Homo sapiens: one gene and its partners. The protein of the gene in region 4 purifies or fractionates together with the protein of the main gene of each other region. This does not show direct contact. Each region holds a gene or a part of one and is shown on either strand. Other genes may lie near its edges.

The links. Proteins that work in one complex are often made in the same cells at the same time.
Region 1: the proteins of TMEM69 (region 4) and CMTR1 purify together in Homo sapiens (affinity purification with mass spectrometry; one large-scale study listed by BioGRID and IntAct). This does not show direct contact.
Region 2: the proteins of TMEM69 (region 4) and RTF2 purify together in Homo sapiens (affinity purification with mass spectrometry; one large-scale study listed by BioGRID and IntAct). This does not show direct contact.
Region 3: the proteins of TMEM69 (region 4) and IMPACT purify together in Homo sapiens (affinity purification with mass spectrometry; one large-scale study listed by BioGRID and IntAct). This does not show direct contact.

Annotation. Positions count from the first base shown.
Region 1 is NC_000006.12:37,431,884-37,436,020, reverse strand, and holds the start of CMTR1 (cap-specific mRNA (nucleoside-2'-O-)-methyltransferase 1), read right to left. Parts: upstream 2,801-4,137; 5' UTR 2,644-2,800; intron 398-2,643; 5' UTR 392-397; coding exon 259-391; intron 1-258. UniProt on the Homo sapiens protein: S-adenosyl-L-methionine-dependent methyltransferase that mediates mRNA cap1 2'-O-ribose methylation to the 5'-cap structure of mRNAs.
Region 2 is NC_000020.11:56,475,127-56,478,626, reverse strand, and holds part of RTF2 (replication termination factor 2), read right to left. Parts: intron 2,985-3,500; exon of another isoform or gene 2,882-2,984; intron 1,643-2,881; coding exon 1,503-1,642; intron 1-1,502. UniProt on the Homo sapiens protein: Replication termination factor which is a component of the elongating replisome. Required for ATR pathway signaling upon DNA damage and has a positive activity during DNA replication.
Region 3 is NC_000018.10:24,450,670-24,454,031, forward strand, and holds the end of IMPACT (protein IMPACT), read left to right. Parts: intron 1-109; coding exon 110-178; 3' UTR 179-2,862; downstream 2,863-3,362. UniProt on the Homo sapiens protein: Translational regulator that ensures constant high levels of translation upon a variety of stress conditions, such as amino acid starvation, UV-C irradiation, proteasome inhibitor treatment and glucose deprivation.
Region 4 is NC_000001.11:45,690,480-45,696,066, forward strand, and holds the end of TMEM69 (transmembrane protein 69), read left to right. Parts: intron 1-494; 5' UTR 495-589; coding exon 590-631; intron 632-2,724; coding exon 2,725-3,426; 3' UTR 3,427-3,938; downstream 3,939-5,587.

The sequences.
Region 1 (4,137 bases), on a different chromosome or scaffold from region 4:
GCCACCTACTGAAGGACAACCAACAGAAAGCAACTTCTGGAAAAATTACCATTTTTTATTTAAAACAAGTTTCCCCACTCTTAGTAGGAGAATGGCAGAAGGGAAAAGAGTCTATAGCCAACATCTCTCTGTAGAGTATTCCTAATTTTCCTCAAGGGACCAAGGGGCAGTGGACTATAGTCTGCTCCACCTAGATTAGACACTGTGTGTTCAAATAACCAGATGGCCAGTGGCCTCAGACCACACAAGCACACGTACCTTTTGCTCCATGACTGACAGAGGAGGGAGGTTCATCATCGGACGTGGAGCTGAGGCTCAGGGCAAGCTCTGCAACTCTTTTTTTCTGTTTCTTGATGGGGGCAGTGCATTCTGGGTCAGTTCTCCTCTTCATCGTTAACTGTAACCATAAATCCAGTCAGTCAGCTGCCCTTGGGTCACAGCCACTGGGATCACAGCAGGGATTCCAAAGTGTAAATCATCAATGGGATGAGATTTGGCAATTCTACACATCTTCCAGTGCCAGCACTTGAATAGCCTCTTCCTCAGAATGAGGTCTAGGAAGGATGCTAGACAAGTGTTGGTTTTCAATAATAGCTGTTTTACTGGAAAATGTGGTGCTCACAGACTGAGAGAGCCCTGGGCCACTGGTGTCAGATAACAGAAAGTCATGGATCAACTCCACAAGCCACTGGGGGATAAAGCCTTGGTACCTGTAGTTATTCTACACTTTTGATGCAATATTGGCCATGCATGACAATGTACACTGAAAATGAACTATAAAACCGAATAAATATTAACCAATATTCCCAAGGTGAAGGGACCATCCCAGAATGACTGTTTCATCAGCATTATTTTACCAAAACAATTAAGAAATTACATAATATCATAAAAATACTGGTTTTGGTTTACTTCATAATGTTTGAAAACATGAAAGAATTGGGAAAGTTTTTAAGCAGAGTAGGGAATGGAAGCAGTGAAATGACTTAAGACCGAGGAAACACAAGAGCGGGAAAGTTATTGGGACTGGAGGTAGCTATACCACAGAACTCAGTTACGAAAACAACAATTTTAAGGACAGAAATCCACCTCCACAAAAAAGAGTGGAAACCAGCTGGGCGCGGTGGCTCACGCCTGTAATCCCAGCACTTTGGGAGAAAGAGGTGGGCGGATCACCTGAGGTCAGGAGTTCAAGACCAGCCTGGCCAACATGGTGAAACCCCATCTCTAGTAAAAAAAACACAAAAATTAGCCGGGTGGTGGCACATGCCTGTAGTCCCAGCTACTCAGGAGAACCGCTTGAATTGCTGAGGCGGAGGTTGCAGTGAGCCGAGATCACACCACTGCACTCCACCCTGGGCGACAGAGCAAGACTCCGTCTCAAAAAAACAAAAAAGAAAGAAACAGGCACCATGCCACCATCAATCATCCATCCCCATGGTTAGGTACATGAGAGATAAGCACGAGAAAAAAATAAGATGGAATGAAGTGATTATGAAACCCTGAAATCTTAACGAATTATCAAGTTAAAGAGCAAGCAAGAGAAGTAGTGAATACAGTGTGGCTTACACACAACTGATTGGCTGTAGAGAACTCAGAAAAGAGGACTCAATACAGGGTGGGCGACAAGCTGGGAAACAATCCTTAGGGAAGGCGAGGTACAGCAAGAAAGTATTGAAACCCAAAAGTGTCACTGATGCTCCCAACCTCGTAAAACCCTGGATCACATGTTTCAGTTCTCTCCAACTCAAGGAAGAGCCAATCAACCCAATGCACAACCGCCACCTTCCTGAGAAAGCAGCCTCTTACTAGATACAGGCAGGGGCTGTCCCAGGGAAGAACCGGAGACACTGAGCAAACAGAAAGCAAGACCAAGCTAAGCCACATTTCACTTTAAGCCGTAGTCTTAAATACCCCCAAAAGGCCCCCAGGGTGAGATAAAGGAAGGCTCATCACAGAGCTTGCTTCTAGCCATTGCAAGCGCTAAAAGCTTTTAATTCTTAAGTGACTCGGGGGGAGACTGGAAGTACAGCAAACTCAAAGCGGACTGTTGAACAGCTGTGTGAAAGGCAGGAGAGGCGGATGCTCCTCCCCAAACCACATCACCTTAGATTTGGGCCTTCCAAATCATCTCATCCAACCCTATCATCTTCCACGGGAAAAGACTGCGGCCACAGAGGTGAAGGCCACACAGCTAACCAGTGCCCTGCTCAAGTGACCCACACATGCCAGCAGAATGCTCTGGCAGGGAACTTCTAAGCGGAAGGCAAGCGGCCTGGTTCTACCTGCTGCTTCCGCACAGAAGGGGTTCAAATCCCCTCTGCAGTCTTCTCTCCCTGGGCCTCGGTTTGGCACTGCCACCCCTAATCACAGAGAGAAGAGATAAGCTCCCATGTCTCCCGGCCAGTCCCTTCATTTGAAGATAACATGAGCGTGTGAATGTGTGCGCAGAGACGTGTGTCAGCGGCAGCTCGGGCTCCAGGGAGCCGGCGTTGGGGGTGGGAGGAGGAGGGAAGACATAAGGGGCCAGAAGGCGAGGAGACCCATAACCGCGGGCGGGGGGCCCAGGCGGCGGTGGAGGGGAGAAGGATGCTGAGCCCGCGCGCCCGCCCGCTTGCTCCCCCCGGGCCGCGCGTCGGCACTCACGCTGAGGGGAGAGAGCGAGCTGCCGGGGAGCGGAGGGGGGGTCAGGCCGACACTGTCGCCGCCGCTGCCAGAGCCGCCGCCTCCTCCCTCAGTTTCGTTTCCCCACAAGCCAGCCCGGGTCCGCCAGCCGCACCGTCGCGCTCGGGTCCAGTACTGCGGGCAGCGCAGCCTGATGACGTCACGGACAGCGCCGCGCCTCGGTCCTCCCCCGGCCGGGTCCCGGCCCCGGGAAAGGCAGCTGAGGTTTGGCCCGCTCCACCTCTCAACCTGGGAGGTCCAGGGGCGCCTGCGCGGAAAAGCCGCCCGGAAAAGGCTGCAAAAGCAAAAGTAACTATCTCCTCCTTTGGCTCTGAGGAAGAGAAACCAATACAAAAATTGTAAGTGCTAGGTGCCCTCACACGACCTCATCTTACTTAATCTTATCATTATCTTCATTTTACAGACTAAGAACAAGTTCAGAGAGGTAGATGGTAAACTGGTTGAGCGAACGCAGTGTTCTTGTTCCCTGCTGTATCCCCAACATCCAGCCTATGGGACATCTCAACAGATTTTGAACGAAGGACGGGAGGACAGAAGGAATGCCGCCTGTAGCATCTTACCATATGGGCACAGTTGGCTCTCCATCTCAAACCTCTCTTCTGATTTTCAGGCCAATATGGCCAAACGTCTGTTGGACATCCTCACTCAGTCACCTCAAACCCCATGAATTCAAATTTCACCTTATGTTCTTCCATCAGCTCACTTTTTTCCTGGTGAAGGGCGCTGCCATCCATCCTGTTGGTCCAGCTAGAAATCTGAGGAATCTCCCTCTTCTTCATACCCCAAAGTTTCTCATACACTTAATTGCGCTTACCTCCTAATTGTCTTTCAAATCCATCCATTCACCCCCATCCCCATTGCCACAATTCATGCACTTACCCCCTCTCGGCAGAATTTCTCCAGTAACTCCAAACTCCCGTGACTGTCTCCAGTTGTGATCCCTCTAATGCGTTCTTCACAAAACCAAAGTGATTTTTATAATTTTCAACACCTGTGAAAAGAAGGGAATTTAAAATTGATTAATTAAACCTGATCCTGTCACAACCCAACAATGATTAAAATCCATCAATGATGTCCCATTGCTCTTAGAATAAAGCTAATGTCCTTAAAATGGCCTCTGAGACCCTCCAGCATGACCCCTTCTTCAGGTATGCCTTGTACTGCTATCCCTTAGTTCTCCCCATGCTGACTCTTCTCAGTTTATCAAATATGCCGTGTCTCCGCCGGGCGCGGTGGCTCACACCTGTAATCCCAGCACGTGGGGAGGCTGAGGCGGATGGATCACCTGAGGTCAGGAGTTCGAGACCAGCCTGGCCAACATGGTGAAATCCCGTCTCTACTGAAGATACAAAAAAAGTAGCTGGGTGTGGTGGTGCGCACCTATAGTCCCAGCTACTCAGTAGGGTAAGTCAGGAAAATCGCTTGAACCTGGGAAGCAGAGGTTGCAGTGAGCAG
Region 2 (3,500 bases), on a different chromosome or scaffold from region 4:
ACTCGCTGAAGGTTCAGGTGATTGCTAGCATTCTTTAGCAATAATTTTTAATTAAGATAGGTACTTTGTTTTTAGACATAATGCTATTGCACACTTAAAAGACTAGACTATAGTATAAACATAACTTTCTTTTTTGAGACAGGGTCCCACTCTGTCACCCAGGCTCTGCAGTGGCATGATCATACCTCACTGCAGCCTTGAATTCCTGGGCTCAAGCAATCCTCCTGCCTCAGCCTCCCAAGTAGCGAGGTCTATAGGTACATGCCACCATGGCTGGCTAATTAAAAAAAAATTTTGTTTCGTAAAGACAGGGTCTCACTATGTTACCCAGGCTGGTCTCTAACTCCTAGCCTCTAGCAATCCTCCTGTCTCGGCCTCCCAAAGTGCTGGGATTATAGGTGGGAGCCACTGTGAGCTGCTAAAGGCAACTTTTATATGTACTAAGAAACCAAAATTTTGTGTGACTTGCTTTCCAGTAATATTTGTTTTATTGTGGTAGTCTGGAATAGAACCCACAATATCTCCGAGGTATGACTGTACTTCTCAAAAGTGGGGGAAAGGGCTTAACGCTTTTGCTTAGTGAGACATCCTATGAAAAAGCATGTACTAACCCATTCAACCGTCCGTATTTTTTAAAGAGGAAAATATACAGGTTGCTTACATTTGCTACACACATCTCAACCATAAGATTCCCAGTGCTACAGCCAGAGAATCTGTTAGCTACAAATTCAAGGCAAATTACCATGTTTTTGAGCCTTTGGTTGACTGATTAACCACAGGTTCTATAACTCTGCCTGTTACTGCATAACTTTTGGCATTTGTAATCAGGTGCAGTGGCTCCCACATGTTATCCCAGCGCTTTGGGAGGATCGTTAAAGGCCAGGAATTTGAATCCAGCCTGGGCAACATAGGGAGACCCTATCTCTACAAAAATAAAAATTAGTGGCCGGGCGTGGTGGCTTACGCCTACAATCCCAGCACTTTGGGATGCTGAGGCAGGAGGATCGCTTGAGGCCAGGAATTCAAGACCAGCCTGGGCAACAAAGTGAGACCTTATTTCTACTTAAAAAAAAAGGATAAAAATAAAACTATAAAACATAATAAAAATTAAAAATTAGTAACAGGAAGGAAATGGGATTTGCTTGATAGGAAACATTTGCTCTTTGCTTTCTGTCCCACAGGAAAAGATGATCTAAGAACTAAACTCAGGTTTCATAAGCGTCACATGAGAACTTTTCAGAATCCCACTTCACTTCAGGTTTTGTTTCCCCACCTCAAGAACGGAAGGCCGCAGACCAGGCTGGATCTCGCTGGAAGTCCCGTAGCAATGGCTGACGGAAATGAACGTGCTCATGACCAAGCACCATTTCCTCCAAGGCGCCACCAAACCCAAGGACACCAGAAAGCAAGCCACATGACTGCTAAGCTCCGGCACCACTGCCACCAAAACCGGCAGTATTCCTCCAGCCTCCCACATCATCTGTCCCAGGTCCGTCACTAACCTGTGTCGGCCGTTCATCTCCAGGCCCACAACGGGGCAGATGAAACGCGCCCGCTGGAGGTCATCGTGCTTGTCACCTTTAGTGTTTCCTTTATCCCCTTCCCAGGCAGGATTATCAGAAAGCTTCAGCTCTGTCACATTCTGGGAAAAACCATTAATATTTTAACAATTCATTTGATAAACAGATCATCCTTTGCCTTAACCACGTAAGTCAACAAATTGTTATTCCAGCCCTTCCCATCAAAACCTCTCCCTCACAGTTACTTTCCTCTGGTCCATAAGAAACATGGATATAATATTAAACCATATATAGAAAACAGAAAACAAGGCCGGGTGTGGTGGCTCATGCCTGTAATCCCAGCACTTTGGGAGGCCGAGGCAGGCGGATCACCTGAGGTCAGGAGTTCAAGACCAGCCTGACCAACATGGAGAAACCCCGTCTCTACTAAAAATACAAAATTAGCTGGGTGTGGTGGAACATGCCTGTAATCCCAGCTACTCGGGAGGCTGAGGCAGGAGAATCGCTTGAACCCGGGAGGAGGAGGTTGCAGTGAGCTGAGATCGTGCCACTGCACTCCAGCCTGGACAACAAGAGCAAAACTCCGTCTCAAAAAAAAAAAAAAGAAAACAGAAAACAAGATTTTTTTCAATTCACTGACTAGCAAGTAAATCAGTTATTTCTACTATCCACATCTTTTTAACTTAAGGAAAAGTACCCTCTTACATAAAAAATTACTCCACTAACAGAAAGCTCTGCATGAGTTCCACCCAGAAGGGAATGCTTTCTCCCTGTGATGAATCCTCTCTGAGGCTGCTTCATGTTACTGACTATCTACATTTATTTAATCGTTGAAAAAAGCAAAAACAAAAAAATATATATATAAAATCATTGAATAGACAGTAAAATCTGAGGCCACGGTCTAACGAGCTAAGGCAGAATATTAGCCAGAAAATACTGTCACACTCCAAGACACAGCTATTCAGGTTTTCAAGAATTCCCAACTTTATAAGGAATTTGATACAGTAACTCTACTTTTGCATTCGAGGCATTTCTTCATATTTAATGAGACCATTTTGACTTCAATACTCTAGAGAGCAGGTGAGTGTCTTGAAAGGCAAATCACCATTCATACGATCAGCTTCCTGGTCGAGAATGAGCACGTCTCACTGAGTTCTCTGCTCCGAGTATTTGTGGACTATCAATTGACGGTAATGACAATCTTATGTATTAGCATTGTTTTATTTGTATGCTTTTTTTCTTTACTGTTCTAATTTCTTGGAGTTTTTTTCCATTAAATATTCAACCACATAAAACTGAATATTACAAGTATTTTAAGTATAGAACTGTATGAATTAATTTCAATAACTGTTTTTTTTTCTCATCAGATGGGTAATGTGCTGATGTCACAACAAGGCTTGAGAGAGGCACATCTTACATGTGCACATGGAAACCCAATCATAGCATTATGAACTACTAAAGAATCGTTTATCACATTTTTGATGTAAGATGATTCATACTACCACAGGTTTTTCAGGAATAAATTCTCTTCCACAAGGTAAAAGACCACTAAAATCAGAATAATTTCTAGAGCACTATCATTAGCTACATTTCAGAATTATGAATTTGCCTGAAATGAACATATCCTATAATCAACCCCAAGCATTTGAACAAAAAGCCTAATAATACGAAAGAAAGAAAGAAAAAGAAGGCAAAACCTAGAGCCTTAGACTGGGAGTTAGGGGATCTGGTTCTGGTTTAAGTACTTCGCTAGCCATGGGGCCTCAAGTGAGTCATTTACAGTGAGATGAAGGGTTTGACTAGCCTGATGGTTCTCAAATTCTTCATTACCTTTCCAAGTTTTTTTCCCCACTGACCATATTTAAAAAGTTGTGTCCTCTCAAGAAATTTCCCTTATTAAAAAAACTTGTTTTTTCAACTTTTATGAAAGAACTTTAACTGCCAATCAGAACCTCTAATCACCAGATGGTAGCCACGTGA
Region 3 (3,362 bases), on a different chromosome or scaffold from region 4:
TATGAATATATGTGGAATATATATGTGTAAATATATTCTAAGTGATTAGATTGAAGATTTCATCTTTATGTAAATGGAGAGATGCTGCACTGATTTGTGTCTTTTTCAGGAGGAGTCATCTAAGGCTTTGGGAAAGAACAAAAAAGTAAGAAAAGACAAGAAGAGGAATGAACATTAATACCTGAAACTATAGGAAAGGTTAATTTGCCTATAATTATATATACATTCCATAGTCATCAAGGAATATATTGTGCAGAGAGAGTATCCTTGACTGCTTAAGTCAGCCAGTTCAGCATGGATACCAACATTAGCTTTTCTTCTTGGTTATATCATCTGCCAAAAATAGAGAACTTATGATCTATTCATGTGTGTTTCAGGCTTATTTGGGAGAACTAATTTGAACTTAATCACCACTTCATCTAATTTTAGCAAGGTAACAGTTGCCCAGGGCAGTACCTGAATTAACTGTCCATTTCAGTACATGTCAAGTGCCTTTGTTAGGTGGAGAAGAAATGTCTCTAGAGGAATATAAATACCTGATTTCTTGTCATCGAGATTCTTGTACTGTTAAATGAATATTGCCTTTTACTGCTCTTTATGGCTTATTGGAATAGGAGCTCATTTAAGATTGATCTTGGAGAGTTTCTTCTTGTGATTTTAGTTCATAAGTATGTCACCTTTCATTTTATAGTGTTCATCATTGAGTAATGGATTAAGTGAAAATCCAGGAGTATCCATCTGCAGTTATGTGCTGAGGTGATAATTCATCCAACATATTTGTTAGCATAAATATTATGCTTCAGTTTCTGTTGCAAATTGGTGATTGTGAAATTACAGAAAGTGATTTTCTAGTCTGCTTTTTTTGTTTAATTCTTGTAATGTAAGCAATAAATATGGAGTGTCAGTAGTCTCCTTCCACCCCAGAAATGTGTTGGTGTAACATTCTCGTTTCTTTTAACAACCTGGAAGTACCTTTCTTGTGATCTTCACTGAGGAATTAGAACTATGATAGAAGTTAGGCTGTGGCAAATGGGACATTCGTAGAGTGGGATAGAGGTGGCAGAATGAACCTGGTGTAGGGCAGGAGTATGTTGTGTAGTTACATCAATTTGATGCATGCTTTCCATCTGCACTCCAGACGGCTTTCTCAGTTCCAAGATTTTGCAGAGAGAAGGAGCAAACCTTTTCATTGGAAAAACAGAAACAACCCTCCCCCCCATTTTTTCCCCTCTATTCATCAAACCTTTATGTATCTTTCATCTTCCAGTTACCTCTAGGCATTTAGATAGTGAAATTTACCTTTGAGATATAACAATAAGTGATTAACTGTTCACTTTCAGATGTAATGGCAAACAATTGTTAAAAGTTATTAACTGATCACAGATTTGCCTGGACTTCCCTTCCCAGGGAGGGAACAGAAGTTAGGAGGCAACTTTGGGATGGTGCTAGAGCATGGAAAGCACAGAGAATTGGACAAACAGGTCTTTTTCTCTTTTCTCTGATGTTTTACCTTTAAAAGATCCAACATCCTTACCGTTGGTATTTTTAGTAAGGTTATAGTAAATAGCTTTACACCAGGATGGATTCTGAAATATAAATTCTAAATTATATTTGTTATAACTATATTTTATGTTGTATGTTATCAGGAGCCATCAGAGAATGACCTTTTTGTGTTTGGAACACTTGGTTCCATGAAAAGTATGCTTTGTGTTTTAACTGTTAAAATAATTTAAAAATTAATTATTTTACATAATTAAAGAAGTTAAAAACTATTAACATTAAATAATTTCACAATTTCAACATGTCAAACCTATGAAGGGAGATAGGAAACAATGAGAAACTTACTTTTGCTCCTTTATACAGAATTATTAACTATATTTTACTAACTAAAAAACTCTAGTATTCTTTACCTAAAGTCAATTGGCTGGTAAGAGGGAGAGATGCAAAATTCTCCAGCTCTGAACTTGGAGCTACTTCACACTCTACTCTTAATGGAAACTTGAACTAATGATAGATAGTATTTTTTTCCTCTATTTAAAATTTTTGTCTTGATTAGGAGATTTTTCAGTTCTCCATATAATAATTTTCTACAATCAGATCTATGCTGTGGCATATTTTGCTTTATTTAAAAATTTTTTTTTAGAGATGAGTTCTTGCTCTGTCACCTAGGCTGGAGTGCAGTGGCATGATCATGGCTCACTGCAGCCTTGACCTTCCAGCCTGCCAAGTAGCTGGGATTACAGACAGGCATGTGCTATTACACCTGGCTAATTTTTAAAGTTTTTTTTGTAAAGATAGGGTCTTTCTATGTTGCCCAGGCTCGTCTTGAGCTCCTGGCCTCAATCGATCTTCCTGCCAAGGTTTTGGAATTACAGGTGTGAGCCACCATGCCTGGCCTGCTTTGACATATTTTATAGTGTGTTAATTACAAATAGTCTTCATATGCCAGAATATAAGAGCAAGTGTTATCTACTTTTTAGATGGGAATTGCAGAAGCTGCATCAAAAGTATGCTTTGAGGTATATATAGTGAAACAGAGCCTTTCTGAAGAGAATTATATCAAACTAATTACAACCAAGAAATAATAGTATGAAGCGGATGCTGTTTGGAGGACAGGAAAATTTATCGGGAAAATTACATAATCCCTCTGATTCCACTATCCAGAGATAGCCATTATTATTAATATTTGGTATGTACATCCTTATATTATTTTTTTCTTATGCATGATTTTGTATATATGGTTATTTTTCTTTCCATAAAAATGGTATTAAACTGTATATACTGTTTTGTAGCCTACATATTTCATATAGAAGTATATTGTTAACATTTTCCATGTCAATAAATATTCTTCTATGGCTTAAATGTCTTATGACTGCATTGTATTCTGTCTTCTCAGTATTATACTAACTAGTCCTCCACTTATTTCCAATTTTTAAGTTTTTTTCAACTTTTCACTGTTATAAACAACTGTGAAAACCTACATCATTTGCAGATTTTTGTATGTATCTTTGATTATTTCTTTAGGAAAAGCTCCTAGATATCGAATTTCTTGGTCAAGGTTTGTACATTCTAATAGCTTTTGATTAGTTGAGTCAGATTGTCATCCAGGAAAGTGTTATCAGTGATTGCTCCATTAATATTGTGTTGGAATATTTAATACCAGCCAAAGATGGGAAAAAATAGGCAGTTTGCTTGATAACTCCCAAGATCCTTTTTAAAAAAGTAAACTTTTTGGCCAGGCACAGTGTCTCACGTCTGTAATCCCAGCATTTTGGGTGGCTGAGGCAGGCGGATCACTTGAGGTCAGGAGGTTGAGACCAGCCTGACCAACATGGTCAAACCTGTCTCTACTAAAAATACAA
Region 4 (5,587 bases):
CGACACAGCAAGACTCTTGTCTCAAAACAAACAAACAAATTAAAAAAACCTAAATTATATTGGTTGGTACTATCGTTATTTTGAGTTGTGAACTCTTAAGCCCCAAAATAGGAGGAAAAAAGGAAACAGAAGCTATGACCTTCCAGTTTTGTTTTGGTTTTTTTTTTAATTTCACAAAAACACCACTTAGAAGACCCTTCATTTTAAAGATGAGAAAACCAGTACTCAAGCAATTTGCCCAGTGTCACACAGCTAGGAAATGGTGGAAGTATCTGTAAAATCTCTATGTGCATTACTCTTTCTATTACACTAGACAGCCAAAGCTAAAAGAACAGTTCAGATACTAAAAGGATCTATTTTGTTACTGTGTTACCGACAGTTTGAAAACATTAATGATTCTTTTCAAAGGAAAGTGTTATATTCATGAATTACTACTATTTAAAAATTAATGTATAAAATGAGGAAAATTAAGTGACACCTTGTGTTATACACAGAAACATGCCCCTGATTCAGTGCCTCTGCTTAGCTGTAACATGTTAATCAGAACTACCTGGCATCTTCCTGAACAAGACTTTCAATAGGGGCCAGTATGCTTCGCTTCATCCAGAAGTTTTCTCAAGCATCTTCAAAGGTTGGTTTGTTCAGCAGATATTTGAGCACTATTTGCCAAATATTGCTTGGGCTAGGTCAGTAGCAGTGAAAAAGACAAAAATCCTTACCCTTGTATATTCAGGTGATGGAGGGAAGAGTTAAGTAAAATACAAGTAAGTAAAATGTTTATTATATCAGGCTGGGTGCAGTGGCTCACGCCTGTAGTCCCAGCAATTTGGCAGGCCGAGGTGGGTGGGATCACTTGAGCTCAAGGAGTTCAAGACCAGTCTGGGCACATGGCAAAACCCCATCTCTACAAAAAATTAGCTGGGCATGGGGTCACACGCCTATAGCCCCAGCTACCTGGGAGGCTGAGAGAGGAGGATCGCTTGAGCCCAGGAGGTTGAGGCTGCAGTGAGCTGAGATCATGCCACTGCACTGCAGCCTGGGTGACACAGCAAGACGATGTTTAAAAAAAAAAAAAATTGGCTAGGTGCCGTGGCTTACGGCTGAAATCCCAGCACTTTGGGAGTTGAGGCAGGTGGATCACTTGAGGTCAGGAGTTCAGTACCTGCCTGGCCAACATGGTAAAACCCTTGTCTCCACGGAAAAATACAAAAATTAGCTCAGCATGGTGGTAGGCGCCCGTAGTCCCAGCTACCTGGGGGGCTGAGGCAGAAGAATCACTTGAACCCAGGAAGCAAAGGTTGCAGTGAGCCGAGATTGTGCCACTGCACTCTGGCTTGGGTGACAGAGGAATAATTCATCTCAAAAAGTAAAAATTAAAAAAAATAAGGCCAGGCACGGTCACTCACTCCTGTAATCCCAAAACTTTGGGATGCCAAGGCGGGCAGATCACGTGAGGTCAGGAGTTCGAGACCAGCCTGGACAACATGGTGAAACCCTGTCTCTACTAAAAATACAAAAATTAGCTGGGCATGGTGGCGGACGCCTGTAATCCCAGCTACTCAGGAGGCTGAGGCAGAGAATCGCTTGAACCTGGGAGGCAGAGGTTGCAGTGAGCAGAGATTGTACCACTGCACTCCAGCCTGGGTGATAGAGCAAAACTCGGTCTCAAAAAAATAAAAATAAAAATTAATACATCAACTGGTAAATGCTGTGGAGAACTATAAAGCAGGGAAGGGCAATAGGTAGTGTCAAGACGTAGGATTGGACTTACAAATGGCAGGGGATCGGAAGTAGGTAACTGAGGGAAGAGCAGTAAATATGGAAACAGGGAAATGGTTCCAAGATGGAACCATTCCTAGCATGTTTGAGTAATCACTGAGATTCTTCAATAACTTCAATTTTTTCTTTAATGCAACACTTTTTAGTTGAAGTCTGGTCACTAAAACACAGAATCAGCAGGAAAGGTTATTACTTTGCCCGTGTACAATGAAAGGCAGTGGGGATTTTAAGGCAAGGAAAAAAATACGGTCCTGGCTCTCAAGTCTACTGAGACAAAGACAAGTAAACACACAATTTTAATTCACTGTGAGAAGAATTATGATGGAAGTGTGCACAGGGTGCTTACTATAGGAGCATTAAATCAGACCGTAGAAGGGTAAAGGAAAGCTTTAAGTTGAATTTTGAATGTTGAGGTAAGTTTCCTAGATAGGAAAGTAGTAAGAGCTAGAATTCTAGGCAGAGCATACACAAAGGTGTGGAACTGTGAAAAGTATGTGGTGTTCATAAAACTAAGTTGGAAGGTAGATTTATTTTCTCCATATAAAAACAGCATTCCCACGGTAATTAGTGCTGCTGCTTTTGCTATTTATAAATAAAAGAGGCAGTTTAGAAGGCCAAATTCTGAAGATCTAGTCTTTACCTGCTCCTCTTTCAGATATTTTTCTCATGGAATAAGATTAAGTGGTAGGTTGAAATATATCACTAGTTTGTGTTCAGTGGTTTCTTTTGTACATTGTATAGCCATTTAATACTCTTACCAGCAATAATATCACTTCAGAGTTATTAGTTCATCCTTTCTGTATAGTTTGATGTGGTAATGGAAAGCAGATCTTTTTTGTTTGCTCCTTTCAAACAATCCCCATTATTTCATACTGGGATTGACTAAAATCTGATGATACATATATATATTTTTAATTTTGTCTTTTGGTTCTATTTTCTTTGTAGATACTGAAGTACTCTTTCCCAGTGGGACTAAGAACCAGCAGAACAGATATACTTTCTCTCAAGATGTCTCTCCAGCAAAACTTTTCCCCATGTCCAAGGCCTTGGCTTTCCTCATCATTTCCAGCGTATATGAGCAAGACACAGTGCTATCATACATCCCCCTGCAGCTTTAAAAAGCAGCAGAAGCAAGCACTTCTAGCCAGACCCTCAAGCACCATCACTTACCTAACTGACAGCCCAAAGCCAGCATTATGTGTAACTCTGGCAGGACTAATCCCCTTCGTTGCTCCACCACTGGTCATGCTGATGACAAAAACTTATATTCCCATATTAGCTTTTACTCAGATGGCTTATGGAGCCAGTTTCCTATCTTTCTTGGGTGGGATCAGATGGGGTTTTGCTCTACCAGAAGGTAGTCCAGCCAAACCAGACTACCTTAATTTAGCTAGCAGTGCAGCTCCTCTTTTCTTTTCATGGTTTGCCTTCCTTATTTCTGAAAGACTTAGTGAAGCCATAGTCACAGTAATAATGGGTATGGGAGTAGCATTCCACCTTGAACTTTTTCTCTTACCACATTATCCCAACTGGTTTAAAGCCCTGAGGATAGTAGTCACTTTATTGGCCACTTTTTCATTTATAATCACTTTAGTAGTTAAAAGTAGTTTTCCAGAAAAAGGACATAAGAGACCTGGTCAAGTATAAAAAATATAAAAGTCTGGGAAGTGAGGAGCACCTCTGCCCAGCTGCTGCCCCGTCTGGGAAGTGAGGAGCGCCTCTGCCTGGCCGCCTGACCATCTGGGAAGTGTGACAAGCGCCTCTGCCCGGCCGCTGTGCAACCTTCCACGTGTGAAGTGACAGCCTTGTGTGTGATCTTTTCTGTCTTCCCCAAGTTTGCATTTTCGACATTAAAGTTTACTTTTTAGTTAAAAGTTTTAAAAATATATATATATAAATACACTGTAGATAACATTTGTATGCCAGCTACACCTTTTTCTACTTCTGTTTGGCTTTTTTTCCCCACACCAATGGTAATTTATCTTCACAGATTGTTCTTCATTTCTAGAAATTGTTACTTCATGGTAATTACTTGAGCAAAAGCTTGAAAATCCCTGACAAGTACTTTTCATCTCATAGTATATTAGTTTTCACTCAGTCATTTTATGAATAATATAGTTATCCACTTAAACATTTCAATATTTTAACCATCTTGAAAATTAAAGATTAAAAATCCCCTTTGTTAGAGTCTTGTGATCATTGAAAAGAATGCACATATTCTCCCACTTCAAGCGGAAAACCTCGTATCTGTGAGTATCTGAAAAGAAAAGGTAGTTCCATTGAGTTTTCACAGGAGTTACCACTGGGAAAGGCATGTCCAAACTTATTTCACATGGTATAACCCAATTATATGAGCTAAAAGGATCTATGGCTCTAAAGTCAGTAGGGAGCAGTGTCATGAGGGAAAGCCACATTCAAAGGTAAGTTGGACATGTTTTCCAGTTTTTATTAGGATATTTGGCATGGTACAGATAACAACTTGTCCCTTACCACCAAACACATAATAGCTGGTCAAAATGATTATTTTCAAAGGAAACTATTTAAAATAAAGCCACTAGTACATATAAATTAGGAAAGAAAAGTCAAGCTGGAGCCATCTTGATATTCTAATGAGCAGGCCTATCTAGTTCTACATCTTTTTTTTTGAGATGGAGTTTCATTCTGTCGCCTAGGCTGGAGTGCAGTGGCACGATCTTGGCTCACCGCAACCTCCACCTCCCGAGTTCAAGCGATTCTCCTGCCTCAGCATCTCTAGAGTAGCTGGGATTATAGGCACGTGCCACCATGCCCAACTAATTTTTTGGTGTGTATTTTTAGTAGAGGTGGCATTTCACCATGTTGGACAGGCTGGTCTAGTTCTACATCTTTTAAATCACAGAGAAGCTTTTAGCTTTGGTGTGTTTTTGTTTTTGTTTTGTTTTGTTTAAACGCAGGGTCTCACTCTTGCTCAGGCCAGAGTGTAGTGGTGTGGTCATGGCTCACTGCAGCCTCGACCTCCTGGGCTCAAGCAATTCTCCCACCTCAGCCTCCTGAGTAGCTGGGACTACAGTTGTGCACCACTATGCCAAGCTAATTTTTTAATTTTTTGTAGAGACAGGGTCTCCCTATGTTGCCCAGGCTGGTCTTGAACTGAGCTCAAGCAATCCTCCTGCCTAGGCTCCCAAAGTGTTAGGATTGCAGGCGTGAGCCACTGCACCCAGTGCAGAAGCTTTCTTAAAACAGCAAAAGCAACACCTTAGATTTTCACTTGAAAACGTAGTCTCTAATCACTCTACTTAAGGTGGAGAAAAAAAGAATTAACAGAAAACCTAGTTTTCTGAAATTCCTAGTCTCACCAAAAAGGAAAAACATTAAAAATGGTCTAAGGATTAAAAATGGTCTAAGGATATAGATCAGGATATAGTATAACCTGGAATTTTTTTTTTTTTTAGATGGAGTTTCACTCTTGTTGCCCAGGCTGGAGTGCAATGGCGCTATCTCGGCTCACCGCAACCTCCGCCTCCCGTGTTGAAGCGATTCTCCTGCCTCAGCCTCCCGAGTACCTGGGATTACAGGCATGCGCCACCATGCCCAGCTAATTTTGTATTTTTAGTAGAGACAGGGTTTCTCCATGTTGGTCAGGCTGGTCTCAAACTCCCAACTTCAGGTGACCCACCCACCTTGGCCTCCCAAAATTCTGGGATTACAGACATGAGCCACCGTGCCCGGCCTGTATATTTTTTAGAGATGATGTTTCCACTCAGTCTCAATCTGATTCTACTCAGATTGTTTTGATAAGGAAACTCACTTCTTTGTTATTAAATTGCAT